Homo sapiens: one gene and its partners. The protein of the gene in region 1 interacts with the protein of each later gene in a pairwise test. Each region holds a gene or a part of one and is shown in the gene's direction. Other genes may lie near its edges. The genes, in order: DOK3, DOK4, A1CF and DTX2.

Region 1 (7,879 bases):
GACAGTGAGTGCTGGCGCTCCCTGCCCCCCACCTCTGCCACCTGCGAGTCTGTGGAAAAGCTAAAGGACCCTTTACCTTAGCCACTCCACAGATCTTCACAGAGGGCTGCTGTGAGTGCGACCCTCAAGGAGCTCCCAGTCTAATGGGGAGGTTAGTTGGGGGAGGACAGAGGGATGTGGCCAGGTACTGTGGGAGCACGGCAGATGGAATGGCCCACCTTGCTGGGGACATCTGGGAGGTGGGAGCTCAGAGAAGGCTTTTCCGGGAAGGTGACATTTGAATTGGGAAGAGGGGCAGTCCAGGCTGAAAGCACAGAGGCGGACGGCCCAGGAAGGTCAGGGTCATTCAGTGGTCAGTCAAGGAGGTTGAGGCACTGGGGTAGGGCTGGATCCCAGCGGCACCTGTGTCCTTTCAGTGCTGTGCAGTCCTCTGCAGACCACCAGAGGCCCTGGACCAGGCCCTCTGTTCACAGATGGGCCAGACCCCATCCCGGAGGCCTTCCTCCACGGACTTCTGAGTATTAGGGAGATGGTGAGCACAGAAAAGGTGAAGCCAGTGGGCCAGGAAAGCGAGCCCAGAGTAAAGCCTCTGGAGCTTGATGACAGCGCTTCTGGGTGAGAGGCTGACCCAGGAGAAGGGGGAAGGCGCGCCAGGCCGAGCGGTGGTGAAGATGGCTGCAGTGCCTTGGGAAAGAGCTGTGTGCTATACATAGGGCAGGTGGTGGGAATGATGAGAAGGGGACAGACAAAGAAATAGGAAGGAGGACAGAGAGCAGAGCAGATGCAGGGTGCCTGCTTGCCTCTAGATAGGTGATAGGCCAGTGGCCCCAACCTCAGGGTCTCTCCTTGGTCCCCAGCGGTGTACACATGATGGTGGCCACCCCGGGGCGCCTCATGGATTTGCTGCAGAAGAAGATGGTCAGCCTAGACATCTGTCGCTACCTGGCCCTGGACGAGGCTGACCGCATGATCGACATGGGCTTCGAGGGTGACATCCGTACCATCTTCTCCTACTTCAAGGTGCCGCCCCCGCCCGGCCAGGGCACCCTGCACCGCCCCCCACTGCACGCCACATCAGACTGCAGGGACCCCATGCCCCTGGCCACCCCAACCCACTGCTCATACTTTGTGGGCTGTGTCTCAGTTGCTCAGCTTCCCCAGACCCCATGCCCCTCAGCCCAGCCCTGTGTGCCCTTGGTCGCAGCCCCCCTCTTCCTCAGGGCCAGCGACAGACCCTGCTCTTCAGTGCCACCATGCCGAAGAAGATTCAGAACTTTGCTAAGAGTGCCCTTGTAAAGCCTGTGACCATCAATGTGGGGCGCGCTGGGGCTGCCAGCCTGGATGTCATCCAGGTGGGCAGGTGCTCCTGATGGGCGGTCTCTCACCTGTGGGGGCTGGATCTGACAAGTCTCCCTGAAGCTGATTGGAGCCGGGGGTCCACCTTGTGGGAACCGGGGGTTTCATTCAAAGCCCCTGACGCTTAACCAGGGCCATTTTTAGGGCACCAGCCCTTGGCGGCCAGAGGCTTCTGGTCACCTCCTGGTCCAGATGACGGGCCATGGCAGGGCTGTGGCGGGTAAGCCTAATCTCAAGATCACCTGACCTGATCTTTGTGGTGGCAGGAGGTAGAATATGTGAAGGAGGAGGCCAAGATGGTGTACCTGCTCGAGTGCCTGCAGAAGACACCCCCGCCTGTGAGTGCAGCCAGGCCAGGCCGGGGCCAGAGTCCCCAGGACCAGGGAGGGCTTTGGAGGGGACAGAGTGCCAGGGGAGGTGCGGTGGGTGCCCAGGCAGTTAGCCCCTGACTGGAGTTGGTCTTTCCGGACAGGTACTCATCTTTGCAGAGAAGAAGGCAGACGTGGACGCCATCCACGAGTACCTGCTGCTCAAGGGGGTTGAGGCCGTAGCCATCCATGGGGGCAAAGGTCAGGGTGGTGCAAGCACTGGCTTGGACCCTGCTGCAGTAGCAGTGCTTTACCTAATGCCTTCCCCTGCCTGGTTGGCCTGCCACTCCCCTGTCCCATGGTGGCTCTGACAGTGTCTGCCTGACCCTCCCCAGACCAGGAGGAACGGACTAAGGCCATCGAGGCATTCCGGGAGGGCAAGAAGGATGTCCTAGTAGCCACAGACGTTGCCTCCAAGGGCCTGGACTTCCCTGCCATCCAGCACGTCATCAATTATGACATGCCAGAGGAGATTGAGAACTATGGTAAGAGCCTGGGGCCCAAGGGCATGGGTTAGGCCGGAAAAGGGCCAAGCCAGGCCCCTAGTGTCCAGCGATGGGCCAGAGACTCTGTCCTTCTCTCTGCAGTACACCGGATTGGCCGCACCGGGCGCTCGGGAAACACAGGCATCGCCACTACCTTCATCAACAAAGCGTGTGGTGAGTCTGTTACCAGCGCCACCTTAGCTGTTCCCTGGGTCCCCTGCCTGTGGCCACCCAGGTTCTGGCCACAGAGCCCAGGATGGGCCCTGATGCTTCCCCACTCCTCCCCCAGATGAGTCAGTGCTGATGGACCTCAAAGCGCTGCTGCTAGAAGCCAAGCAGAAGGTGCCGCCCGTGCTGCAGGTGCTGCATTGCGGGGATGAGTCCATGCTGGACATTGGAGGTGACTGCAGAGCGGGATCCCCGAGTCCCCAGCCGGCAGGTGGCAAGGAGGGGTGCTGGAAGTCAGAAACGTGAAACCGGTGGACCGAGGGTGCCTAACGGGGGGCCCGAAGTCCAGGGCATGGATCCTGGTCCTTGACTTGGCTGACCCCTGTCCCCATTCCCCCAGGAGAGCGCGGCTGTGCCTTCTGCGGGGGCCTGGGTCATCGGATCACTGACTGCCCCAAACTCGAGGCTATGCAGACCAAGCAGGTCAGCAACATCGGTCGCAAGGACTACCTGGCCCACAGCTCCATGGACTTCTGAGCCGACAGTCTTCCCTTCTCTCCAAGAGGCCTCAGTCCCCAAGACTGCCACCAGTCTACACATACAGCAGCCCCCTGGACAGAATCAGCATTTCAGCTCAGCTGGCCTGGGATGGGCCAGGCTGGTCCTGGCTGCCTGTTCCCTGTGCTCTTCAGAATTACTGTTTTTGTTTCCTTTTACCCCAGCTGCCATTAAAGCCCAAACCTCTAGCCCAGCCCTGGCCCTGCCTCTGTGTTTCACCTCATCCGCCCCCTGGTTCCTGGACAGACGTCACCTCTGACCTCTGGAGCCCCTCTGAGGCAAGGCCCCAGCATCTCCCACTAGCACTGCCAACACCTGGCCTGCTGGTACTTGGCTGTGGAAGGAGCCACCGAGCTGGTGCCCGCCTCTGGGGACTCTGGGTCTCTCCACTGGGTTGTCTGAATTTATGACTCAAGGAGGGACCACATTGGCGGGCCAAGGAGAAGTGCTTGGATTCTCTGGTCTCCCTGGCCAGCTGTCATAGCTCTCAGGCCCACTCTTCCTGTCAGGGCTGTGATGTTTCAGGGACTTCTCCTGAAGCCCCTTGGGAGGCTGCTTCTTGCCTCAGGACCCCCACCCACTGCCTGCCTGTGCCAGCCACCTGGAGGGAGCCCTCCATTCCGTTGACTGAGGAGGCAGCAGATGTCATAGAACTGCCATTTAGGCCACAAGCTCTCCCTAAGCCTGCTCTGTGCCCAGCTCTGCTGAGCTGTGAGGACCTAGATGGGCCAGGGAGATGGCTGCCTGGGAAGCCGTCAGGCGAGGGGAGAGAAAGACGCACACGCAGAAACGTGGACGGCAGTCACAAGACCGCTAGCAGATGAGGCAGGATCTCAGCATCTGGTGAGAGGTAGGCAGGGACGGCACAGGCGGCCACACTTCCTCTGAGCCAGGCACTTTGCATGTATGGCCACATGCTCATTCCAGTGAGACAGCGGTTGCTCAAGCCATATTTGTCACTTGATATGTGGCATTGGGCAAGTTACTTAATTTTTCTGAGCACCGATTTCCTCACTGTTGAAATGGCGATGAGAACGCAAAGGATGTGGCGTCTGAGGTGGACGGAGCTTAGGGCTGCTTGGGCCACAGTGGGCACAGAGCTGGGTGCCAGGAGGCCTTCAGGACATATTTCCTGGCCAAGTGCATTCCCAAATGGCATTCCTTATCCTCTTCCATGTTCTCTCCCAGAGGTGGTGCTGAATGACCTGAGGCTGTTCCAGAATAAAGGTATACACACAGCCCCGCTATTGGCATCTTGCTAGGCAAGCCAACAAAAGGCGCCCCCAGCAGGAAGCAAAGCTTTAAATGAACATGTGACCTCTCCGGGGCCCCCTGGGACCTGCCACCCACACTCACGTGGTTGGGGCCATTCAGGGCTGTGGGTCCCATGTGGACTGGATGCCCAGCGTGAGTGTATACCGTGAGGGCCTTTGAGCTCTCGGACAGCGTGGAGTGGTCAAGGGAGGCCTCCAGGAGGAAGAGGTGGCCAACCGCCCCAGGCAGCACAGTGGTGAGGGGGCCCTGGAGGGGCTGGCCTGGGGGAGATGCAGGCCAGAACACACAGGTCCCTGAGTGTTGGGCTGAGGAGCCTGGGCTGCACCCCAGGAAGGGGAGAGACAGGTTGGTCTTGGGTTGTGGAGAGTGCTGCATGGAGGCCCAGTGGGGCAGTGGCCCCTGGGGGGATGCCAAAGGCTGGTGATGTTCAGTGGCTCGTGAGGTGGAGAGGAGCAGGTGAACACGAGAGAGATTTCAGGGAGAAAGAAAAGCAGCAAGATGGGGTGAGGCGCTCAAACCAGGACGCCGAGTGGGAAAGCCAGGAGTTGGCTAGAGAAGGGTCCTGGGTGGAGGCAGGGCCAGGGAGTGTCAGGCCCAGGGTGCGCAGCTGCCCGGGGCGGGACGGGGGAGGGGCGGGAACTCATGACTCGGGGAGCCAGACTGCGATCAGACGCGCGTGCCCAGCTGAACCAGGTGCGTGAGAAGGCTGCCTTCAGGTGGCCGGGGGCTCCCTCCAGGTAGGTGTGGGCACCTTGGGCAGCCAGAACCCCAGGGAGGAAATACATGCTGCCCCCAGCCCCTGAGCTGAAGACAGGCTCCCCTCCCCCCGGCCTGCAGCTGTCTCTAGACGGAGGGACGGGAAGTGGCCAGAAGGGGAAGTGTGAGGAGTTCCCGTCCAGCCTGTCATCAGTCTCCCCAGGTCTTGAAGCGGCGGCCCTGCTCCTGGCCGTGACCATGGACCCTCTGGAGACCCCTATCAAGGATGGCATCCTCTACCAGCAGCATGTCAAGTTTGGCAAGGTGGGGACCCCTGGCTGCCAGGCAGCTGCCAAGGACCAACAGTGGGTGGAGAATGCAGCCTCTGCCCCTGCCTCGGACAGCCCAGGCAGACCTGGGAGACTTGGGAAGGGAGTCAGGGTGGAGGATCCCACCCAGGTATGGGGAGTGGAATGGAGTGCGGGTGTCAGCCTGAGACGGCAGGGGCTGAGCAGGCTCTGCCAGACCCTGCCTCCGGGAGAGATGGGAAATACAGGAGTGGGAGAGGGTCGAAGGCTCAAACCTCCCAGCAGGGAAGAGCTTCACAGCCTCTGACCCATGAAATAGTGCCACCGAGGGCCCTAAATAGGGTGAGGGGCTGAGCTGGAGGAGGCCTCAAGGGTGGAGCCCCTCCCTGCAGCGGCACTGTCCTGGGAGCAAGGAGGCAGGGGGTCACCTCTCCTCGGCAGCAGCCCCACACCCCCGCAGCTCAGCTGCAGCTGCTGCCCAGGCAGATAAACCGTCAGTTTCCTTTGCTCGAAGCTATTTGCATGTTTCCTTCCTTAACAGCTTGAGGCAGAGGCCTCCCTCCCACCCCAGCTCTTGGCCTGTGGCCCAAGTGCCCCTTTTTGGGGGTGAGAGGGAACCAATATAATGGCAGTGTCTGGTGGTCTGCCCGGCCACTGGATGCTTTACAAACATGACCCAGTAGCAGTCCCAGCTCGAGTTCTCATGGCCTTTTGAGAGACGACATTGATGCTTGTGGAGGTCACAGTTAGGAAAGAGCGGGCTGGGATTTGAACCCAGGGCTGACCAATCCCAAGCATAGCCAAGGCCTCCTTACCTGGCTCCCTGAGAAACTGGGGAGCAGAGGCCCGCTCCTGGCTGGGAGCGTTTGCCGAGCAGCTTGTGCTGAGCCAAGTGGCACGGACAATCTGCCACCCAAGGGTCTTCACCCTCCCGCTCCCCTCCCGCAGAAGTGCTGGCGGAAGGTGTGGGCTCTGCTGTATGCAGGAGGCCCATCAGGCGTGGCACGGCTGGAGAGCTGGGAGGTCCGGGATGGTGGCCTGGGAGCAGCGGGTGACAGGTCGGCAGGGCCTGGCCGGCGAGGGGAGCGACGGGTCATCCGCCTGGCTGACTGTGTGTCCGTGCTGCCGGCTGACGGCGAGAGCTGCCCCCGGGACACCGGTGCCTTCCTGCTCACCACCACCGAGCGAAGCCATCTACTGGCTGCTCAGCACCGCCAGGCCTGGATGGGCCCCATCTGCCAGCTGGCCTTCCCGGTGAGTGCGGCGAGCAGGGGGGCGATTGGGCTGGGGCACCTGCCCCCGACTTGTCCACCTCCACGCTCACATCCCATCACCCAGCAAGCTCCACCGAGCACCTACAAGCCTGGGAAAAGTAAATCTATAATGACTCTCAGAGGGCCGTGCGTGCCATGGAGAAAATGGACCGCCAGGGGAGCAGGAGGAAGTGAGGGAGCGACGGGCAGGGTGGCCAGGGAAGGCCTCTCAGAGGAGGGCCCTGAATGACAGGAACCCACTGGGCAAAGGTCTGAGGACAGGGGCAGCCTGGGGAGTTGTGAACAGAGGGAGTCCCGTGGGCAGAGGCCCCGAGGCCGGACAGTGTGGGGTGTTTAAGGGCAGAAAGAAGGCGACGTGGCTGGAAGGAAAGGAGTGCAGGAGGAAGCCAACTCACAGAGCTTAGGAGAGCGGCTGAAATGCCCTAGGCCATGTGTGTGGTTTTGTTCTGAGTGAGAGGCGAAGGCTTTGGAGGGTTTAAGCCGGACATGTTTGTAAAGCCCCAAAAGGTCTGTGATGGGTCAAAAGGAAGTGAGCCTGGGGGTTCTTCAAAGAGGTAAACAGAGTTACCATGTGGCCCACAGGTCCACTCCTAGGTGTGTGCCCAAGAGAACTTGAACAGGTGTTCAAACAAAACATGTACATGTGAGGCAGGAGGATCGCATGAGCCCCAGAGGTCGAGGCTGCAGTGAGCTGTAATCGTGCCACTTCACTCCAGCCCGGGAGACAGAGCAAGACCCTATCTTAAAAAAAAACCCACATGGACATGAACGTCCATAGCAGCACTACTCACAGCCACCAGAAGGTGGAAACAGCCTACATGGCCATCAGCTGACAAATGGATAAGCAAAACGTGGTCCGTCCGCAAGATGGAATACTACTCAGCCATAAAAACAAACAAACGCCTGGCACAGTAGCTCTTGCCTGTAATCTTAGCACTTTGGGAGGCTGAGGTAGGAGGATTGCTTGAGCCTAGGAATTCAAGATCAGCCTGGGCAACATAGTGAGACCCTGTCTCAAAAAAAAAAAAGAAAAGAAGAAAGAAAGAAATGTACAGACAAGGTAACTCCATTGGGATAGAAATCAGATGAGTGTTGGCAGGAGCTGGAGGAAGGGAGAAGTGGGGAGTGGCTGCTCATGGGTACAGGGCTTCCATGTGGGATGATGGAAAAGTTCTGGAACTAGACAGTGGCAACAGTGCACAGCCTTGTGAGTATACTAAAAAGCACTGGTGGCCGGGTGCGGTGGCTCAGGCCTATAATCCCAGCACTTTGGGAGGCCGAGGCGGGCGGATCACCTGAGGTCAGAAGTTCGAGACCAGCCTCAACATGGAGAAACCCCGTCTCTACTAAAAATACAGAAGTAGCTGGGCATGGTGGTGCATGCCTGTAAT
Region 2 (7,021 bases), on another chromosome or scaffold:
ACGTGCCACATGCCCAGCTTATTTTTTCATTTTTTGTAGAGACGGGGTCTCTCTATGTTGCCGGATCTGGTCTTGAACTCCTGGCCCCAAGTGATCCTCCCACTTTGGCCTCCCAAAGTGTTGGGATTACAGGTGTGAGCCACTGTGCCTGGTCTGCTCTCCACTTCTTGCTGTCCTATTGGGCCTTCACAGGCTCAGCTTGGGGGCCGCCTCGCTTGCTTAACACAGTGCATTCCTTCTGGAGGATGGTGGGTTGGTTCTGGGCCCCCCCCTCACCACTTGACCCCACTGCCTGTCAAATTTGTGGGTCCACCTATTGGCCCTGACCTTTCCCTCCCCTTCCGAACCCCTCTTTGCCCACCATTTTGGGTCCTAGGTTAGGTCTTGCTCTTGCAAACATCATTAGGGACTAAGTGTGGCCAGGGGTCCCTGTGACTCAGGGCCGGAGTGAGCTGGCAGGACTTTGGCACCCAGCCTTCCCCGTGAAGGTCACTCTTCCCGCTGGGGACCTGGGGTATGGGACGGGGTGGGGCCTATGGACAGACGCAGCAGGAGCACTCCTGCGAGCTTGGGGCCACAGTCCCTGGTGGGGCAACACTGGGAAGGAGCAGGCTGGCTTCTGGTGGTTTCACCGCCCTGTCTGGGCAGCAACTCTTGAAGAAAACTATATATATATACATACACACAGCCCTTGGAGTTTTCAAGGCAGAAGCTCTGGCCAGGCGCAGTTGCTCACACCTGTAATCTCAGCACTCAGGGAGGCCGAGCCTTGTGGATCACTTGACCCCAGGAGTTCAAGACCAGCCTGGGCAACATGGTGAAAACCCATCTCTAGGGGCCGGGCGCAGTGGCTCACGCCTGTAATCCCAGAACGTTGGAAGGCCGAGGCGGGTGGATCACAAGGTCAGGAGATCGAGACCATCCTGGCTAACACGGTGAAACCCCGTCTTTACTAAAAATATGAAACAATTAGCCGGGTATGGTGGTGGGCTCCTGTAGTCCCAGCTACTCGGGAGGCTGAGGAAGGAGAATGGCGTGAACCCGGGAGGCGGAGCTTGCAATGAGCCGAGATTGGGCCACTGCACTCCAGCCTGGGCAATAGAGTGAGACTCCGTCTCAAAAAAAAAAAAAAAAAAAAACAAAAGCCCCATCTCTACAAACAAGTTTTTAAAAATTAGCTGGGCATGGTGGTATGTACCTGCGGTCCCAGCTATTCAGGAGGCTGAGGTGGGTGGATCACTTGAGCCTGGGTGGTTGAGGCTGCCGTAAGCCGTGATGGCACCCCTGCACTCCAGCCTGGGTGACAGAGCAGGACACTGTCTCAAAAGAAGAAAAAGAAGGCCGGGCGCAGTGGCTCACGCCTGTAATCCCAGCACTTTGGGAGGCCGAGGCGGGCGGATCATGAGGTCAGGAGATCGAGACCATCCTGGCTAACACGGTGAAACCCCGTCTCTACTAAAAATACCGAAAATTAGCCGAGCATGGTGGTGGGAGCCTGTAGTTCCAGCTACTCGGGAAGCCGAGGCAGGAGAATGGCGTGAACCCAGGAGGCAGAGGTTGCAGTGAGCCGAGATCGCGCCGCTGCACTCCAGCCTGGGCGACAGAGGGAGACTCCGTCTCAAAAAAGAAAAAGAAAAAGAAAAAGGGTAGAAGCTCTGTGTCCCAAGTGGGCAAGCAGGTGCCTCATGAATTCATTTCCTCATTTAAAGTAGGTAGATTTATTCTCATTTTTTTCCAATGGGGAAATTAAGGCACAGGGTCTTAAGCGGCTTGCCCAGGACCACACAGCCAGCTGGATTCACACTCCGGGCTGTGCTATGTCTGAGCTATGTTGGATGAACCTGGGGGTCCAGTGGCTTCCTGTAGGCGTGTTCTGACTGGGGGCTTCCACACTGTAGACCCACAGCCAGTGGTCAGCCTGCTAATCATCTTGGAGAGGAACTCCTGAGCTGGTCCTTGCTCTGAGGAGAAGGCAGCCCCAGAGGCAGGCGGTGAAGACAGAGCTGAGAAAATTGACCCATCTCTGGCTGCCAGAGCCCAGGTGTAGCAGAGCTGTTGGGGATCAGTTGCCAGTGAGGGGACCCCAGACCAGACCTTATAGGAGGAATGTAGACTGCCTAACTGTGGGAGGTTCTTGGACCCCAGGGAGCTGGGATAGAGGCAGTGAATGGGCAGGAGTGGAATTGAGGGGCTATCAGGGTGCAAGTGGGATAGGGGCGCATTACCGTCTCTGCCCCTCCCTTGTTTGCGTGTGCCCACTGGGGTAGTCCCATCTGTGCGTGTGCCCACTGGGGTAGTCCCATCTGTTCCTTGTTAGGCACTCAACAGACAGGCCTCCAGGACATTAATTAATGCCAAGCTGCTGGCACAACCAGCAGCATGCCTGTCCCAGGGCCCCGTTCTGGCAGCACAGATACCCAGCTGACCCCAGAAATGCTGCTCCGTTCCCACCCGCTGATCCTGAAGACACAGGGGCCACATTGCTGGCATAACCCTGCCCCCGAGGATGGATGGCAGGGAAGGCTTAGGTGGTGGCAGGCAGCCAGAGACGGCAGCAGGATGTTCCCCCCACAGACTGGTCTCCATCACCACCCTGGACCTTCTCCTTCATCCCTGGCTCTGCCCCAGGCCTGCTGTGTGACCTTAGTCATGTAGCTTACCCTCTCTGGGCAACTTTTCTTTCTCCATCTATAAAATGAAGGGGTTAGACTGGGTCAACACTGAGCCTCCCCCTGAGTCTGAGTCTTTGTTGTCTGTAGATCTGCCTGATTTGGGGTGGCTCTGCTGGTACTCCCACTTCCTGCTCCATATCTACCTCCCCTTGGTATCCCACATTGTCTCCTGCATGTCTTGTTGCCCCAGGGCCCTGACTGGTACTCCTATAATTAACTCCTGCCCATGCTCAGGACATGGAGGGCCTGCTTGGCTTGGCCAGACCCAGTGGCCTGTTGGGGCCCGGGCCCCACCCTCACGGACTGGCCAGCGTTCCCAACCCCAGGGCCAGGGCAAGGCGTCTGCTCCCACAGTGGCTACCTCCAGCCGGCCCAGCACATTCCTCAGGCTTATCTGGAGGCCCGCCCCACTGGACTCTGCCCTCCCACCCAGGAAGCAGCACCCAGAGCTGCGTGCGGAAGAGTTGCAGGGCCTGGGAACAGGCCCTGCGTGAGCTCGAGGTAGTGATTCTTAGCCTGGGGCTGGAGAGAAACAGGTAGAGGACCGGGTGGGGCAGGAGGGTAGAGGGGTTTGTGGGGGCTGCTGAGCTGACCAGGCAAATTGTCTTTAACATTGCAGAGCATGGGGTTCACTCAGACACGCAGGGGTCATCTCCTGCGACCCTCCTCCTCCATCTCTGGGAAGCGCTTCCCTGCTACCCCTGGGAGCTCTTGTACCCAGGAAGGGGCTTTTGCTCTTGGCAAGTTGACCTAAATTTGCACCAGAGTTATCACAGTTGATGGGGCCACGATCCCAAAGTGCTGAGGGACAGCAGCTCCCTGCCACTTCCCTTCCTGGGTCCCCACCTCCACAGTAGGAGCCAGAGCCAGTCCTCCCAGGAAGGGGTTAACTGCCAGCCCCAGCCGTGAGGGAGGGGACTGGGCTGGACCATTTTCCTCACTGCCGCCTCCACCTCGGTTTTCCTGAATGGTTCTGTCGTCCTGGGGTGGGGAGGGAAGGGAAGGAAGAAGGGCGGGAGGAAGGAGGGAGGGAAGAGGGAGAGAGGAGGAGTGTGGGAAGAGGAAGGAAAAAAGAGAGCGAGACAGCGAGAGGAAGAGAAAGATGTCACTGTCTCTAATCTCCCTGTCATTTTTATTTCCAGCAGGCGCGGGGCGAAGGAGCTGCTAGAACAATGCTGAGGCGGGTGAGGTGAGGAGCAGCCCCTCGCGGCAGCCCCGACAGAGTGTCTGGAACAGGTGATTGGAGGAGCCGGAGACCCAGGCACCTGGGCATCCTTCCCCTCGCCTCTGCCAGGCCCCGCGCCCCTAAAAGGTGGGAAAACCATGGCGACCAATTTCAGTGACATCGTCAAGCAAGGCTACGTGAAGATGAAGAGCAGGAAGCTCGGGGTGAGTGACCCTGAGCTGCGGAGGGGCCCTGCCAAGGGATGGGGGCCCGAGGACTCGGTCCCAGGCTTGGAGGCATGGCGCGTGGGGCACGCGGCTGCCCTCCGGCTGCCGGGCATCGTGCATCTGTGGTCTCGGGGCTCCTCGCCAGCGTGCTGCCTGGCATGTGCCTGGGCTGGGTTCTGCCTGCTGCAGCCCCCGCCCCAGAGGGCTGGCTGGCATCCCAACAGCTGGGCCAGTGGTGGTGGTAGTGGCAGCAATGGTGGCCACCGATGGGCAGGCGGCTCCCCTGCTATTGTTGAAGTTGTCACCACAGCAGCAGCAGGGGCGGCTGGCAAGGCCGGGCTGTGTCTGAGCTGAGAAGCAGCGTCTCACTTCCCCTGGCCTCCTCTCCCTTCCGTTTGCCCCCCACCCCCGGCCTCCCCTCACCTCTCCTGGCCTCTTTTCTTTTAGGTCATCCTCTCCCCTTGCTTCTGACTGCTTTCCGTGTGCAGATATTTAGTAAATTTTTGGTTGTCGAGTTTAATGTTAAAGAAGTGTTTGAAAAGGGGAGTGGTTGGCTGGGCGAGACGGGGTGGTGTGAGGCACTGAAGCTGATATTTATGTGGTTTCCAAATGAGAACTTTGGGCAGAATGGTCCAGTGCTCTGGGACAGGCTGCTTCCCTCCAAGTTGTTGGTGGGTGACTCTGTGCTTGCTTGGTGCTTGGCCCTGAACTGGGGGCTTGGAGGGGCTACAGAGAAGAGGTCTTACTGGGCATGCATCCTGTCCTACCCTCTGTAGACCCCCAACTGGTGAAGACCCCCTAGAAGACAGGAGCAGAGGGGATCAACTTCATGATCTCGGCGAGGCTGTCTGAGAGCTGCCTCTATTCCTCTGCCAGGCCCCCCTGCCAAAGACAGGTCTGGCAGTTGCCCCTTCCCCTGTAGGAAGGACAGCCCTGGTGACTGAGGTCACCCAAGTCTTGTGTTTGACCCAGGACTCCTGTCCCCTTCTCCCTTCTCTCTCCCATTGCCTTGAAGGGGGCGGGTCGGCTCAGGCTGCTCAAGGATCCCTGGCTCAGCCTGAGTGGGGTTGGGGGGCATGCGGAGTGGGAGAGGGATCTGCCACCCAGCTTCCCTACCTGGGTACCAGACAGAGCAGGGCTGGTCTTGGAGAAGGTGGTTCTGGCCCCACTTCCCCTCCTGTGCCTCCCTGCCCTGGGGCTCAACCTAGTTGAGACTGGGCCCTGGCAGCCATCGGCTACTTTGCTCTTCCTCTGAAAGGGGGATCAGCCCACTGACTTGGAGCACAGAACAAAGAGAGAAGCTGAGGCTGAGGTAGGGAGGCCAAGGAAGCAGAGGCTTCGCTTCTAACATCACTTCTCATTCCTATGGCCCCAGACTTAGCAGGTCCCCAGGGGCCAGCTGGGCTGAGGCCTTGCCCAGGGCAGAGTGTGCCAGGAAGGCACCAGCCACAAGGGCAGCCACTTGGGCTCAGTATCAAACCTGTTCCAGAGGGAGACTGAGTGGCTGACAGGTGGGCACAGCCTGGATGGGGAGGTGGGGCATAGCCAGGCCCTATCCATGCAGGGAATTCTCTTCCCTCTGAAGCCAGGAGCCTCACTTCCCCTGGTGTGAGAGGCTGTGGTCCCTCCCCAGCAGCCATTCTCATCTCAGCCCACAGAGGTGAGGGGGGAGGGGCTGAAAGAGATCAGGAGCCGGCTCTCCTACCTGCCAGGGCCTTTCTCCCGCGGCAGAGCTGTGGCAGAGTGTTTCTGAAGCACTGATCAAAGCCCTGTGCGAAGTGGGAAGGAGGGCTCTTGAGCGCGTGGCTCCCTGGGGCTGTGAATGTGTATCCTGTAACCAGGCAACCGGCATGCTCAGGCCCCCAGGCCTTCTGCCCCTGATGCTGCGGGCTGCATGGAGCCCACCCTGGCAGGGTGTATCTGGGTCGGCAGCATCCATCCATTCATCCATCCATTCATTCACGGTTCCTTCATATGGTCATTCACTTGTTTAGCATGGCTGTTAATGAGGCTACCAGGATATGAGTGAGGATTCTGTGGATAAAATTCAGTGTCTGTCTTAAGGGAGCGCTGCAGCTGAGAGCTGAGGGCTGCTGTGGTTTAGGTGGGTAGGACAGGGGCCAAGCCAGGGTCAGGGGTGCAGGAGCAGACATGCCTCCTAGGGTCCCAGATAGGAGCCAGAAATGGCCTGGCTCTGAGTGGTATCTTGAAATGGGGGCTGCCTAGGGCCACTGCACCCTGGGACCCTGCCTGCCAAGGACCTAGTGTACGCATGGCACAGTAGGGCCGAGGAGGGGTGGGGCCTAGAGGCCCCCTGGCCTCCTCTGCTGTGCTCTCGGCCACCACTCAGTCTCCCTACTGTTTCCAGTAAGAGGAACACCAGAGATGCCTGGGGAACAGGCTCTGTCGGGCTTTTGGAATGCCCGCTGGAAGGAGTAGGTAAACCCCAGCCACAGACTTTGGGCAGAAAAAAGTCTAGGCAGGAGGGAGGGGTCATGCAAGGGCAGCTCTGGCTGGTGGCTGGGGCCAACTCCCTCTCCACCACCCATGAATGATAGGCCAGTCTGTCCCTTCAATCCTAGAGTGGTCACTCCCCTCTGCTCCCCACCCCCTTGGGGGAGTCCCTGAAGCTACAGAGAATGTAGGTAGTTTAAGGTACAGGGGCATCAGCAGTGGCCAGGGCCAGGAGGGAAGGCACCATGCTGTGGGAGGAGCCTCAGATTCCTAGCTCCACCCCTTTACCTCAAACAGCTTTGGGTTCCCAGCTGGAGCAGGGCCCCTTACATTTCAGGGTTGGTAAGAGAATGAAAAGAGAGGGTGAGTGAAAGCCCCAGGAGACAAGAGTGGGGGTTACCTTTGTAAAGACCCTCACCTGACTCAGAGAACTAGGGGCACGGGGATGTACAGGTGGGCAGGGGGAAGGGTCTAATCCCTATCCCCAGGAGACCCCTCTGTTG
Region 3 (7,021 bases), on another chromosome or scaffold:
AAAGGAGCAGCACTCTTGCGGTGACATTCTGTATTAGAAATCTGTATCCCATCTGCTCCTTGGCCTGATCCTGTAAAATCTGGAGAGTTATTAACAAATGTTTGCTGCTGATTCAACCAGGAAAGCTAGTTCATCATTTCATTTCATCAAATCTACTCCAACTAGGTTATCAGTTTTTTGTTGTTGATGATGGTTTGTTTGTATGAGATGGAGTATCGTTCTGTTGCCTAGGCTGGAGTGGTGGTGCAATCTCAGCTCATCACAACCTCCACCTCCTGGATTCAAGTGATTCTTGTGCCTCAGCCTCCCGAGTAGCTGGGATTACAGGCACACGCCACCATGCCAGGCTAACTTTTGTATTTTTAGTAGAGACGGGGTTTCATTATGTTGGCTAGGCTGGTCTCGAACTCCTGAACTCATGATCTGCCTGCCTCAGCCTCCCAAAGTGCTGGGATTACAGGCATGAGCCAACATGCCCGGTCTAGGTTATCAGTTTTAATGACCACTTAGAATTTTTAATTTAATAAACTAAAATTTTGTATTGAATATTTTTGATTGATGCAATCCAAAAATTAAAACATGCCCTTTTGTAAAAAATCATCGTCCTGTATAAGATATGCTGGTATCTTGAGAGCTCTAATTTGATTTCTTTTAAACATATGTAAGCTAAGATTTTTATCCTATATAGATTTATATGTGGAGTTTTATGCATATATGTATTAACAATCACATGGAGAACATTTTCCAAGTTTGTTTATTCAATAGGAATTGGTCCCTGGTAATATTAAGAGAGAAATACTAATAAGGATGTAAGATAAATCCTTCTGATTTGCACAGTTAAGTGCAATGCTCTGCTCCAGATGTAATATGACTAAAGAGAATTAACACATGACAATTTAGGCAGACAGAATGTCTAAGTGAGCAGATTGGTTTATAATTCTATAAAATCCCACCTGCAGTAGTGATGTAGTGATGCCTTCCCTCCCTCCAGCAATTAAAAACTATTCATTGTTTTAGGATGCCCAATTGATTTAAAAATCACTAGGTTTAAGTAGTAGAACTAACTACAATATCTTATTTCCATAGGATATTCTAGTTTATAAAGCTTTTCATATACAAGAACTTATAAAGATTTTTAATGGCAAATTTCTTATAGTTGATGTCAATTCAGTATGCCTAGTTTCTTCAAGGTAACTGTGTCAATATTCACCATTCCAATTGTACAAATCTGATTAACTGAAAGATGCTCCCACCTATCGTTTATAAGCCCAACTCTGTTTATGTAACACAATGATGTCCAACTTCACTGGACATTAACTAATGTACCTATCAGTTAAGAGGCTAGATGAGGCCGGGCGCAGTGGCTCACGCCTGTAATTCGAACACTATGGGAGGCCAAGGCAGGCAGATCACCTGAGGTCAGGAGTTCAAGACCAGTCTGGCTAACATGACGAAACCCCACCTCCAGAAAAATACAAAAATTAGCCAGGCATGGTGGTGGGTACCTGTAATCCCAGCTACCCAGGAGGCTGAGGCGGGAAAATCACTTGAACCCAGGAGGCGAAGGTTGCAGTGAGCCGAGATCGCACCATTGCACTCCAGCCTAGGCGACAGAGTGAGACTCCACCTCAAAAAAAAAAAAAGAGTCTAAATGAAAACAGTGAAGAGAGGACATAAAGGTCCATGTGGAAGGTGAGAGAAGAACCACCCCCATATGGGACCTAGAAGAAAACAGCCCTAAAAAGATGTAATTATAACTCAGTCCAGATGCTGTGACTAACACAGTGAAAGATATAAAGGAACAGAGGTTTATAAAATCTCCTACCTGCCTGGCAGGGGACTGGCAAAACATTGTGCACAAATGAAATTTTTTATTTCTATTGATTTTAGTATTCTATCCAGCTCTTCTACTGGGATTCTGCTTAGTGCTTATCTTTCCATCTGGGGCCTTCAGCATGAACTAAAATGTACTTTAAATTATTAGATGTAATTAAACTCTAATGCCTCTGATTATTTGAAATGGAAGTCAGAAATCAAAATCAGGTTCCATGGGGGGAAAACTGTGTTGGCACATATAGATGTTCATCTCAGGAATCCTCTTTCTAACCTTCTTTTCCGAAGATCCCTAAGAGTTCCTCGCCATTCATGTACTTACTACCAACTAATTATAATTGGCACCCTACGATGATGATAACAATGATGTTAATAAAATCTCTTACATCCTCTTACATCCTGCCACATGCCAGGCACATAGGTTAACTCATTTAATCCTCCATCACTCTATGGAATGGGTACTATTGCTACGCCATTTTTCCAATAAAGCAGCTACAGCTTAGGGACACAGAGAAATTTGCCCCAGGTCACACCACTAATAAGTGGTGCAGGAGTGAGTCCGGGCAGTCTGGCACAGGCCACCCTGTGAACAAAGGACAAATGGAACACTGGGAAGCATCAAGGCTTAGAACTGAAGAAAACTTTTGAGATCCTTTATTTGACAGAGAAAAGCAAGTTGGGTTCCCCAGCTTGGGTTTTTGTTAGAATGAGAACCCAAGAGCAGAACCTGAACCCTCTGTGGATACTTTTCCATTATACCACTTCCCACTGTAAAGCATTTCTAATTCAGCCTGATTCTCTGTGAAAATTCTGAGAGACGAATTAATAGAATCCCTATAGTTAAACAGGAATACTCCCTTCACTCCAAGTCTCACCTTCCTTGCTGTGCCCAGACTCATGGACTGACCTAGCCAGAGACTCAGTTAAAGGAGACCCATTTTGTGACTTGGAGAGACTGACAGGCCCACATCACAGAGGAAATACATGCAGACACAGACATGGATATGGTTTAGCTTTTTGTCCCCACCCAAATCTCATCTTGAATTGTAATCCTTAGGCCTGAAGGAAAGAATCTGGTGAGAAGTGATAGGATTATGGGGGTGGTTTCCCCCATGCTGTTTTCATGATAATGAGTGAATTCTCATGAGACCTGGTGGTTTTATAAGTGTTTGACTTTTCCTTCTGTACACACTACTTCTCTCCCCTGCTGTCACATAAGAAGGCCTAAGCTTGCTTCCCCTTTGCCTTCCACCATGATTGTGAGTTTCCTGAGGCCTCCCCAGCCATGCAGAACTGTGAGTCAATTAAACCTCTTTCTTTATAAATTACCCAGTCTCAGGTATTTCTTTGTAGCAGTATGAGAACAGACTAATACAGGCACCATGAACATAGTGACAGGATAAACCATGGAGGCATTGATAAAAATAAAAAGTAATTGTGATGAATGACTTGGTTGCAATTACACTCAAATTCTGTTAGTGTCTGAAGAGGACATAGCACCTCCTACCTGGAGGACATACCCTTTTCCCCATGGAAAAAATAATTGGGCTGCTAGGTCTGTGTCTGCTAAGGGAGTCCCATATTTAAACTGACCTAATTCAGAACTTTAAATTGAGACTCAGATGCTCCCAAATAGCAGCTCCACCAACCTGAATAGAGTTACTCATTTAGAATAAGAGTTTGTTCCCACAAGTTTTGTTAAAATACAAATTAGTTGGGATGCGGGGTGTGAGTGATAGGGACTAAAATCGCTTAACAGACTAGCCTGGCAAAGCCCTGTGGGAAGCAAGTTTTGATGATAGGGAAGAGAAGATGTCAAGAGCAGATGGTCCAGGGAGGAAGTGTCACAAGTAACTTGGGGGTGATATAAGGGACTTGAGTAGCAGGTATTTGTCTGATCTTTAAGGAATTAACTTATTAAAGAATTTTGTTAGTAAAGTCATTTGAGTATCACACTTGCAACATACTAATTCATCCATGTCTAGTTTTCTCATTAAATCACAGATATTTAACAGGTGCATTAACTTGAATTGACATCATGCAGCAAATGCCATTATATGGACCCTTAAGATATTTTAAGAGAAAAACCTATAATGCCTGGAAACTCTTAGTTTTCTCTGACATTTAAAAACAAGCCGTAAAATCAAATCCTTTCTATAATAATTTAGTAACTCAGAATTGCAAAGGATTTCCTAAAGCCCAATGATCCAAAGCTCTGACCTGTGATGTTGGCATAGCAGAGTGGGAGACAAATCATATGTTAAAGCAGAAGGCTCTGGATCTGGAATGCTTGGATACAAATTCTGGCTCTACCACTTGCTACAATTTAACTCTAGGCAAATTACTGAACTCTGTGACTATTTCCTCTTCTGTAAAGTCAGGGTTGTTTCAATAATTAGATCAGAAATTGTAAAGTGCTTAGAATAATACCAAGCAAGTGTGCATAAACTTTAGCCATTTAGCTATAACTCTCATCATATTTCTGTGTTGATTACAAAATGCTTTACTAGAGGAAAATAGATGAGAAAGAGGCCATGAGGTAAAAATGTACAGTGCTTTTTAAAGTAGAATGAGGTGGCTTAGAAATTAATTCTATCCCCATCACTGGCTTGTAGTAGAAATTTGAAACAGTCTCTCCCTGATTCTCTGGCAGTTTTTCTCTTTTTTTCTTTTTTTTCTTTTTGAGATGGAGTCTCACTCTGTCACCCAGGCTGGAGTGTAGTAGCGTGATCTCAGCTCACTGCAACCTCCGCTTCCCGGGTTCAAGCGATTCTCCTGCCTCAGCCTCCTGAGTAGCTGGGACTACAAGCATGTGCCACCACAACTGGCTAATTTTTTGTATTTTTGGTAGAGACAGGGTTTCACCTTGTTAGCCAGGATGGTCTCGATCTCCTGACCTCGTGATCCTCCTGCCTCAGCCTCCCAAAGTGGGGGGATTACAGGCGTGAGCCACGGCGCCCGGCCCTCTTTCAGTTTTTTCTAAGACAGAGACACTCCCTATCACAGACAGGGTCTTCTAAATTAGTAGAGAATGATTTGAAGGAAACTGGGTAATTATCAGAGGAAGTAAAAGAGAAATACAGATCCTCACACCAGAATGCAAATCTCTAAGACTTTATTATTTTCATCACTATGAAAGAAAAGATCAGTACTCAAAGCCACTTATGATGATGCATGTAAATTAGCATAAAATCAGAACAAATATAATATGGCTTTTAAAATAGAAACATAAGGCTATCTTTCCTTACAAGTGTCAGATTGCTTCTGTGCCACTGTAACACAGAGCTTTAGATGGATTTTTTAAAGCTTCACTCAGAGATCAAATGTACTCCATTAGTCAGTGATTGGCAGACTTGGTGAAAATTGAGTTTTCAACTTAAATTTCTCCAAATTGGTCTGAGGAAACCAGATGCAGCAACTAAGTTCAGAAGGTCAGAGTCTCAATAAGGTTAAAAAGAGAGGGAGAAACATAACACTAGAAGTATGAATGAATGAAATAGACCACACACAGCTCATCAGGTCTCTATAATATACCACGCAAATAATTGGTACCAGGACTATTGAATAATCAACTGCTTTTAAGCTGAAGAATATCTACATTGTATACCATGATTACCACTTTACCAATTCAAAAGACAACTTAAAAATTAAACATATATACAAAGACATTCTGCTTTTTTCATTAGGCCATGTCATTCTATAATTTCTAAATTCTGTCAACTCTCTTCCCCAGGAATCTTCTAGAAGTCAGGCATTTTGGGAATAGTTGAGTATCATAATTGAATAAAGATAGCACAACAGTCACCTGTAGTAGTCTGATCTTACAGGTACTAGAACAATAACAGCACAAAAACAGAGTTACGTGTATGTATTATTCAGTGTTCTCTAGAAGAAAACATAGTATATGTATATATAGGCAATACATTTATAAATGCATAAAACAAATATAAATTTGTGTAAGTATGCATATAAATATGTAAGTCTACACATATAAATACAAATAAAGAGATTTATTCTATGGGATTGGCTCATGCAATTATAGAAGCAGGAGTCCCAAGATTTGCAGTAAGCAAGCTGGAGATTCAGGGGAGCCCATGCATAGTTCCAGCCCAAGTCCAAAGGCTTGAGACCCAGAAAAGCAATAGTGTAAGTTCCAGTCCAGAAGCCATCAGGTTAGAGACGCAAGAAGAGCCAATATTTCAAGTCCGAAGATCAGGAAAGGCCAATGTCCCTGCTCTGTCATGCAGGCCCAGCTCCCTCTTACTCAGCTTTTATGTTTTATTCAGGTTTTCAATTGATTGGATGAGGCCCACTCACATTGCATCTGCTGTTAAAATTTTCCAAGATCTTTTTGGGGTTAAAAACCTATCATTCATCTCTCAATCTTCAGTGTTGACAAGGACAGAGCACTTATGAGTATTCCTGTTTCTGAGTTTCTGATAAGCTTGTCCAAGTGGAGCACAGGCTGGACAATTTATAAGACAGTATTGAAGTCAGAGCAATTACAAAAGGAAAGGGGTAGGTTTCTTGTGTGATGTGCTGCAAACACTGACCTCTCAGAATTTATTCGGCCCTGTGTGTATATACGTATTCATGTCTGCACATATGTGCTAGTTCACTTATACATCTATACATACACACAATCACATATACCCAAGATCTGATGGAATAGACATGAATTTGGCTTAGCCAGGGAAATTATAGAAAGAATAATGGGAATCCTAGGCATGTGGGAAATGGGAAACAAGGACAAAGGCGCCTAGGTAAAATAAAAAGCAACTGGTGTGCCTAGGAGACCTGATGGACTTGAGCATGGAATAGCTCCAGACTTGTATTGAAAGAAAATCAGGAAAGTCAAGTTACGACCAGGTCATGGCAGGCACTGAATGTCAGGTTAAGGGGCTGAACTGTTTCTTTCTAGTTAGTGATGGGTCCAGTGAAGGATTTGGGGCAGGAGAATACTAGAAGGAATATTTTAGGGAGATTGATCTTCCAGTGGTGTGCAGAACAGATATGCCATGCCTAGAGGGTAGTAAGCAGTGACATTTCTTTCACTCTACACTTTAGCTGAGCTCAGGGTAAGTCCAGTAATGGAAGATGGGGTGGGAAATAGAGCTAGGAGTGTAGAGAGGGCAACAGGTAAGGATACATATGTACCAAAAGCAGAAAACAAGTTAAGATCCAGGCT
Region 4 (7,021 bases), on another chromosome or scaffold:
TCGTGAGGGACATTTTAATGGAGCACACTGGAACATGTGGAATGGGTTTAGACTGGATTATTCGCTTTGTGGCGGTCTTCTTACATACATCATGCCAGCTTCTTCGTGGGGAGAGGCAGGTGAGTGGTTTTGCCCTCAGTTGCTTATAGTCTAGTTGAAGAGATAAAGTGAACATAGAGAACTGAAAAGGAACTTGCTAAGAGGGTGTTTTCTTTCATTCTTTTTGTTGTTGTTGTTTTGTTTTGTTTGTTTACTTTTTGAGACAGGGTCTTACTCTGTCACCCAGGCTGGAGAGCGGTGGTGCAATCTCAGCTCACTGCTCAACTTCACCTCCCAGGCTCAAGAGGTTCTTGTGCCTCAGCTTCCCGAGTAGCTGGACTTACAGGTGCACACCATCATGCCTGGCTGATTTAGAGGGTGTTTGCTTTCTGCTGGGCACATCCAGGCATCGTGGGAAGTGCTGTTTAAATTGGGCCATAAAAGGGTGGGTAAGGTGAGGACAGGGGACCAAGTGGGTGGGATTCAGGGTGAAGCAGAGTCATGGGGGTGGGGACAGACACGCTGATGCACATGGGAGTAGTGGATCCTCATTTACACTCTGGAAGGGAATTGTGGAGAGGGAGGTATAGATGAGGGGATGGAAGGGAAGGGCACCGGCAAATATTGTTGATAGCGAGGGAAGGGCGGTATTGTGATCGGCTTTGACTGTCAGCCTAAGGAATTTGAATTTCATTCTAGAGATCCAGGGGAGGTGTGTAAAAGACAAGATCAGAACGTTAGTTCAGGAAGCTTAATCTTTTCTGCCCCCCCATCTGAGATGTACAAGAGGGTTAGAAAGCAGAGTTGGAGAAGCTGTTTGGGAGGGAGCACTTATTTGTTTTTTTGTTTTGTTTTGTTTTTTTGAGATGGAGTCTCGCTCTGTTACCCAGGCTGGAGTGCAGTGGCGCCATCCTGGCTCACTGCAACCTCCACCTCCCGGGTTCAAGTGATTCTCCTGCCTCAGCTTCCCAAGTAGCTAGGACTACAAGCACCTGCCACCATGCCTGGCTAATTTTTGTATTTTTAGTAGAGACGGGGTTTCCCTCTGTTGGCCAGGCTGGTGTCGAACTCCTGACCTCAGGTGATGCACCCACCGAGGCCTCCCAAAGTGCTGGGATTACAGGCGTGAGCCACTGCGCCCGGCAGGGAGGGGGTAAAGTGAGAGGCATAAGGGTCCCGGCCAGGTGTTAGCAGGGGGCTTCAGAGGTGAGGAGAGAGCAGGGCAGGCAGCTGCTAGGCCTGGGGGAGCGGGCTGCGGAGGACTGAGAATCTGAGGTTTTTCTCTTGGCCGCCTGGGGGAAATCCAGGGGGAAAAGGAGAATGAGGAAGGAAGATGCGTTTGGCCTCAGACGTGTTGAAGGTATTAAGAGGCCAACAGGAAATGAGGCCATGGGCTAGAGAGAAGAGCCCTGATTCATTCCCCAAATGCCTCCCGAAATTCTGTGCGCCGAGGCTTGTGTTTGGCACTTGGAGTACAAAGATGAATTCAGCAGTCTCTTTGGTGTTTGCCTTATCAGCTAAGCTGAGAACAAGATTGATTAGTACACACTCCTCAGTGTTCATGCCTGACCTACTTTTCCTTATTTAGTAAGTTATTTTTAATAAATGTAGTAAGCTCTGGCAATCTAGGCACCCAAAACAAAAGCTGGGATCATGAAACAAAAGTATATATCTAATCTTTTTTTTTTAATTTTAAAAAACTTTAAAAAGTTTTCTACTTTATCAGGTCCCCTTAGAACATCTAATCATTTCATTTGAACTTGTTTTCTGTTCTTACCCTGAGGTAATCATTATCTCCTTTCTTTCATTTTTTTCTTAGTTTTATCTTACATGTGTATTTCTTTGTTTCTCTGTCTCTTTTTTTTTTTTCTTTGAGGCAGAGTTTCACTCTTATTGCCTAGGCTGGAGTGCAATGGCACGATCTCGGCTCACTGCAACCTCCACCTCCCGGGTTCAAGCTACTCCCGATTCTCCTGCCTCAGACTCCGGAGTAGCTAGGATTACAGGCATGCGCCACCATGCCCGGCTAATTTTGTATTTTTAGTAGAGACGGAGTTTCTCCATGTTAGTCAGACTGGTCTCAAACTCCTGACCTCAGGTGATCCACCTGCCTCGGCCTCCCAAAGTGCTGGGATTACAGGTGTGAGGCACCGCGCCTGGCCTATTTCTTTCTTTTTTTAGAGACAGTGTCTCACCTTGTAACCCAGGCAGCTGGAGTGCAGTGGCATAATCACGGATCACTGCCGCCCCAAATTCCTGGGTTCAATGGATCCATCCCCTTCAGCCTCCTGAATAGCTGGGACTACAGGCACAGGCTACCATGCTTAGCTAATTTTTAAAGTTTGTGCAGAGGCAGCTTCACTGTGTTGCCCAGGCTGGTCTTGAACTCCTGGGCTCAAGCAATTCACCCGCCTTGGCCTCCCAAAGTGCTGGGATGATAGACATGAGCCACCATGCTCGGCAGTGTTCATCTTTCGTAGCTATTGCTAGACCATTTCCTGAATGTAGTGCTTATACCAGTATCCACTTTACCAGCAGTGTCCTGTGTCTTGCAGCTCCACAGTCTTACCAACATTTGCTGTTGGCCAAGTGAATGGGTAGAAAATGGAATCTTTGGGAACTTGGTTTCTAGGTCCCTGAGCCCTGCTGCTGAATATCTCCTCTTATGTTTATTGGCATATGTGTTTCCTGTGAAATATTCATGTCTTTTGCCAGTTTTTCATTAGGGTTCTTGGTGCTTTATTTTTTGTTGATCTATAGGGCTCTTTATATATTGCTGATTTTAATCCTTCGTGTCTATTGCAAATATCTTCTCCCAGCTTTTAACCTATTATTCCTCTTTCTTTAAGGTGTCTTCTGTTGATCAGCCATTCTTCATTTTAACATAGCGAAATGTATTTTTTCCCTAGTACTCAGTTTTCTGGGTCTGGTTTGAAGTCTTTTCCTGAACATAACCCTTGCCTTTAAGGAGCGTATGCATTCTCCAGTGGAGGAGACAGATAATGGCACTGAGACGTCATGTGGGCATTGATTGTTAGAAGTGGCCACTTCTGCCTGTGGAGCGGGAGCGAACTTAGGAAAGATCTCACAGGGCAGAGTCTTGAGCTAGGAATTAAGAGATGAGTAAGTGGACAAGTGCGATGGGCATTCTCAGTGGGGGACGAAGGGCATGAAACATCCTGACCTGCCCTGGGCACTGCCAGGAGGTCCAGATGGCAGGAGCTGACGGTTTGAGGGGCTCGGGCAGGGCATCCCGAGGACAGCTTTGGGTGATCTGTATGCAAGGGAATATTGAAGCCATGGGAACAGATCCTGAGGATCCGGGGGGAATGGAGAGAGGAGGGGAGGAGGGGAGAGGGAGGCCAGGGCCTGATTCCCGGATGCAGAGAATGTTATCAACGCCCGGTGTGGCTCTGGGGAGCACCTGGGGCTTCCCAGGGGCGGGTGCTGTTGGCATGCTGCCTGCTGTGCTGTTGGATGCTGTATTTCACCCTTAGGTGTTGGGCAAAGGCTGACATGTCTGCAGAGGGCAGGGCGTGTTGTTGGCAAAGCTAGCCAGAGGCAGAGCACTCTCTCACTTTTTGATAGAGACATGAGTTCAGAGAAGTATTGCTCAACTGTAGGAGTGTGAAAGTACAGTAATAGATGTGAGGGAGGCCACAGGGCAGAGGTCTGCAAACGATGGACCCTCAGCCAAATCTGGCCCACTGCCATTTTTTTTTTTTTTTTTTTTTTTTTTTTGAGATGGAGTCTCACTCTGTTGCCAGGCTGGAGTGCAATGGCACGATCTCAGCTCACTGCAGCCTCCGCCTCCCAGGTTCAAGAAATTCTCCTGCCTCAGCCTCCTGAGTAGCTGGGATTACAGGCACCAGCCACCATGCCTGGCTAATTTTTGTATTTTTAGTAGAGACAAGGTTTCACCATGTTGGCCAGGCTGGTCTCGAACTCCTGACCTCAGGTGATCCACCCCCGCTTGGCCTCCCAAAGTGCTGGGATTATAGGCGTGAGCCACCACGCCCAGCATTTTTTTTTTTTTTTTTTTTTTGAGGCAGGGTCTAACTCTGTTGCCCAGGCTGGAGTACAGTGGCACAGTCTCGGCTCACTGCAGCCTCCGCCTCCTGGGTTCAAGTGATTCTCCTGCCCCAGCCTCCCAAGTAGCTGGGACTACAGGTGCACGCCACTACGCCTGGCTCATCTTTGTATTTTTTTGGTAGATACGGGGTTTCACTGTATTGGCCAGGCTGGTCTCAAACTCCTGGCCTCAAATGATCCACCCACCTCAGCCTCCCGAAGTGCTGGGATTACAGGCGTGAGCTACCGCATTCAGCCCCACTGCCTGATTTTGTTCATAAAGTTATATTGGTATGCAACCCCTCCTGTTTACACATTGTTTATGGTTGTTCTTGTGGTCTAGTGGCAGAGTCACTGCAAAGACTTTTTCTGTCCTTTACAGGAAAAGCATGCTGGCCCTAGCCATAGGGAGTCATGGTAGCTGTGGCCACCCAGAGAGGACGTTCCAGCCACCATTGCAGTTTAGCTGGTGTTGCTAGGTAGATCATGGATCTAGGTCCAGCCTGCAAATATTGCCATCTTTCCTGATTTTCAAGGGAAGCTTGAAATCTAGATTTTTTTTTTTTTTTTTTTTACTGTGAATATTCCTTTTTTTTTTTTTTTTGAGACGGATTCTCATTCTGTCGCCCAAGCTGGAGTGCAGTGGCATAATCTTGGCTCACTGCAACCTCCACTTCTTAGGTTCAAGCAATTCTCCTGCCTCAGCCTCCCGAGTAACTGGGACTACAGGCGCTCGCCACCACACTTGGCTAATTTTTTGTATTTTTTAGTAGAGACAGGGTTTCACTGCATTAGCCAGGATGGTCTCGCTCTCCTGACCTCATGATCTGCCTGCCTCGGCCTCCCAAAGTGCTGGGATTACAGGTGTGAGCCACTGAGCCCGGCCAAATATTCCAATTTTTAAACATCAGCTCAGTTTTTAAAAGCCAAACCTTAGTAACCCAAGCAAAACACATCTACAGGCCAGTTTGTCCGTCGTCAGTCTGTCTTGGTGGGAAAGACAGGAACTCTGGAAACAGATTTGGGTTTTCTCAGTCCCTGGATATCCTTGGGCAAGCTGCATGTCTTCTGGTGACTCACTTTTCTCAGTTGTGGTATGGAAATATCCCGCTTCCCCAGTTGTGAGGACCAACGAGAATTACTAGTCAGGTGGAGGGGCTTAGCACGGTGCCTGGTGCCTGGTAAACCTTTACCTGGTAGCCATTGCTGTTATTCATTTATTTATTTATTTTACACAATAATTTACTTATTGAGAGCCTTCTCTCCCCGCCCTTGCAGTCTCTAGGTCACTTTTTCCACTTGTAGATTTTGTGCACAAGCCCCAGAAAGATGGCTGGGGGCAGGGGCTCTGCGTACTATTCGATGAGACCCATAACGTGGCTGTAACTGTCTTTCTCATACTGCAAGAACACGGCTGGCAGATCCAGCTCCTCGTATAGTGCCTTCACCCGGGCCACCTTCTCGGCCTCCTTCTGCCTGTAATTTTCCTTCAGGATCTGGTACTGTTCTGGAGTGGCCTGTAGCAGACACTGAACCACCAGCCAGCTGCATTTGTTGTCCTGGAAGTCATTGCCAACTCTGCCAGTCACACTGGGGTCCCCAGAGAAGTCAAGGTAATCATCCTGAATCTGAAAGAACTCTTGAATCTCCAGCAGGATCTTCTTGGCACTGGTGTGCTCCTTCTTGTCATCCATTCTTGACATGTACATGGCTGCAGCTACAGGAAGGTAGAAGGAGTAGAAAGCTGTCTTGTACTTGACAACAGATTTGTGCCTTTTTTCGGTGCATCTGCGAAGATCCACATTGCCCTGGGGGGTTGTGATGAGGTCGAGGGTCTGCCCAATCTCAGTCTGATAAGAATTCTGCTGGAAGAGCTCCATCAGGTTCAGGTAATAGGGCTGCTCCCGGCAATACAGCTTCAGCAGGCAGTAGATACATGCTTCCAGAAGGATAGCATCATTGATGGCATCCAAACCCATGCCCAGCTTCTGATACCAGGAGATCTGTCCCTGGCAGGTAAGGGATGAATCCATAATGTCATCTGCCACCAGGAAGAAAGCTTGCAGCAGTTGCGCATACCAGCCCACAGTCGGTGCCCACTGGAGACTATCAGCATCCAGTTTCCTCGGCTCCACCAGCTCCCGGAACGCTACTAGCACCATCAAACCTCGGTGATACTTGCCTCCAATGGCATTGTACTCCAGGACCTCCTTGAGCCGGGCAGTAGCATCTCCTGTCTCTGGGTGCCCCATCTCATCCTCAGTCAGCACCCTAACGATCTGGGAGTAGTGCTGAACGAAATCCTGCTTTGCTTGGGCATAAATATCTGATTTCTGGTTTCCATTCGTTCTTTTTTTTTTTTTTTTTTTTTTTGAGACGGAGTCTTGCTCTGTCGCCCAGGCTGGAGTGCAGTGGCGCGATCTTGGCTCACTGCAAACTCCACTTCCTGGGTTCACGCCATTCTCCTGCCTCAGCCTCCCTAGTAGCCGGGACTACAGGCACCCGCCACCGCGCCCGGCTAATTTTTTGTATTTTTAGTAGAGACAGGGTTTCACCATGTTAGCCACGATGGTCTCGATCTCCTGACCTCGTGATCCGCCCGCCTTGGCCTCCCAAAGTGCTGGGATTACAGGTGTGAGCCACCGCGCCCAGCCTGGTTTCCATTCATTCTGAGGGAGGAGCAAAGGGCTGTGTTCCTGGATGCGGGTTCCTGCTTGGCTGTTATTTATTTTTTTTTAAAGAGACAGGGTCTCGCTCTGTTGCCCAGGTTGGAGTGTAGTGGCACGATCATAGCTCACTGCAACTTTGAACCCCTGGGCTCAAAGCAGTCCTTCTGCCTCAGCCAGTCAAAGTGCTGGGATCACAAGGTGTGAGCCACTGCACCAGGCCTGCTATTACTGTTACCATTACA

What was found.
Region 2: the proteins of DOK3 (region 1) and DOK4 interact in binary tests that used the Homo sapiens proteins (3 or more experiments, as listed by UniProt).
Region 3: the proteins of DOK3 (region 1) and A1CF interact in binary tests that used the Homo sapiens proteins (3 or more experiments, as listed by UniProt).
Region 4: the proteins of DOK3 (region 1) and DTX2 interact in binary tests that used the Homo sapiens proteins (3 or more experiments, as listed by UniProt).

The regions. Positions count from the first base shown.
Region 1 is NC_000005.10:177,506,826-177,514,704, reverse strand, and holds the start of DOK3 (docking protein 3), read left to right. Parts: upstream 1-4,878; 5' UTR 4,879-4,947; intron 4,948-5,047; 5' UTR 5,048-5,164; coding exon 5,165-5,230; intron 5,231-6,162; coding exon 6,163-6,468; intron 6,469-7,879. Other genes in the region: probable ATP-dependent RNA helicase DDX41, read left to right, coding at 1-4, 858-1,020, 1,221-1,352, 1,623-1,694, 1,829-1,925, 2,060-2,209, 2,312-2,383, 2,499-2,609 and 1 more. UniProt on the Homo sapiens protein: DOK proteins are enzymatically inert adaptor or scaffolding proteins. They provide a docking platform for the assembly of multimolecular signaling complexes. DOK3 is a negative regulator of JNK signaling in B-cells through interaction with INPP5D/SHIP1.
Region 2 is NC_000016.10:57,476,482-57,483,502, reverse strand, and holds part of DOK4 (docking protein 4), read left to right. Parts: intron 1-3,113; exon of another isoform or gene 3,114-3,208; intron 3,209-3,745; exon of another isoform or gene 3,746-3,814; 5' UTR 3,815-3,995; coding exon 3,996-4,061; intron 4,062-7,021. UniProt on the Homo sapiens protein: DOK proteins are enzymatically inert adaptor or scaffolding proteins. They provide a docking platform for the assembly of multimolecular signaling complexes.
Region 3 is NC_000010.11:50,875,617-50,882,637, reverse strand, and holds part of A1CF (APOBEC1 complementation factor), read left to right. Parts: intron 1-7,021. UniProt on the Homo sapiens protein: Essential component of the apolipoprotein B mRNA editing enzyme complex which is responsible for the postranscriptional editing of a CAA codon for Gln to a UAA codon for stop in APOB mRNA.
Region 4 is NC_000007.14:76,464,697-76,471,717, forward strand, and holds part of DTX2 (probable E3 ubiquitin-protein ligase DTX2), read left to right. Parts: intron 1-5,323; exon of another isoform or gene 5,324-7,021. UniProt on the Homo sapiens protein: Regulator of Notch signaling, a signaling pathway involved in cell-cell communications that regulates a broad spectrum of cell-fate determinations.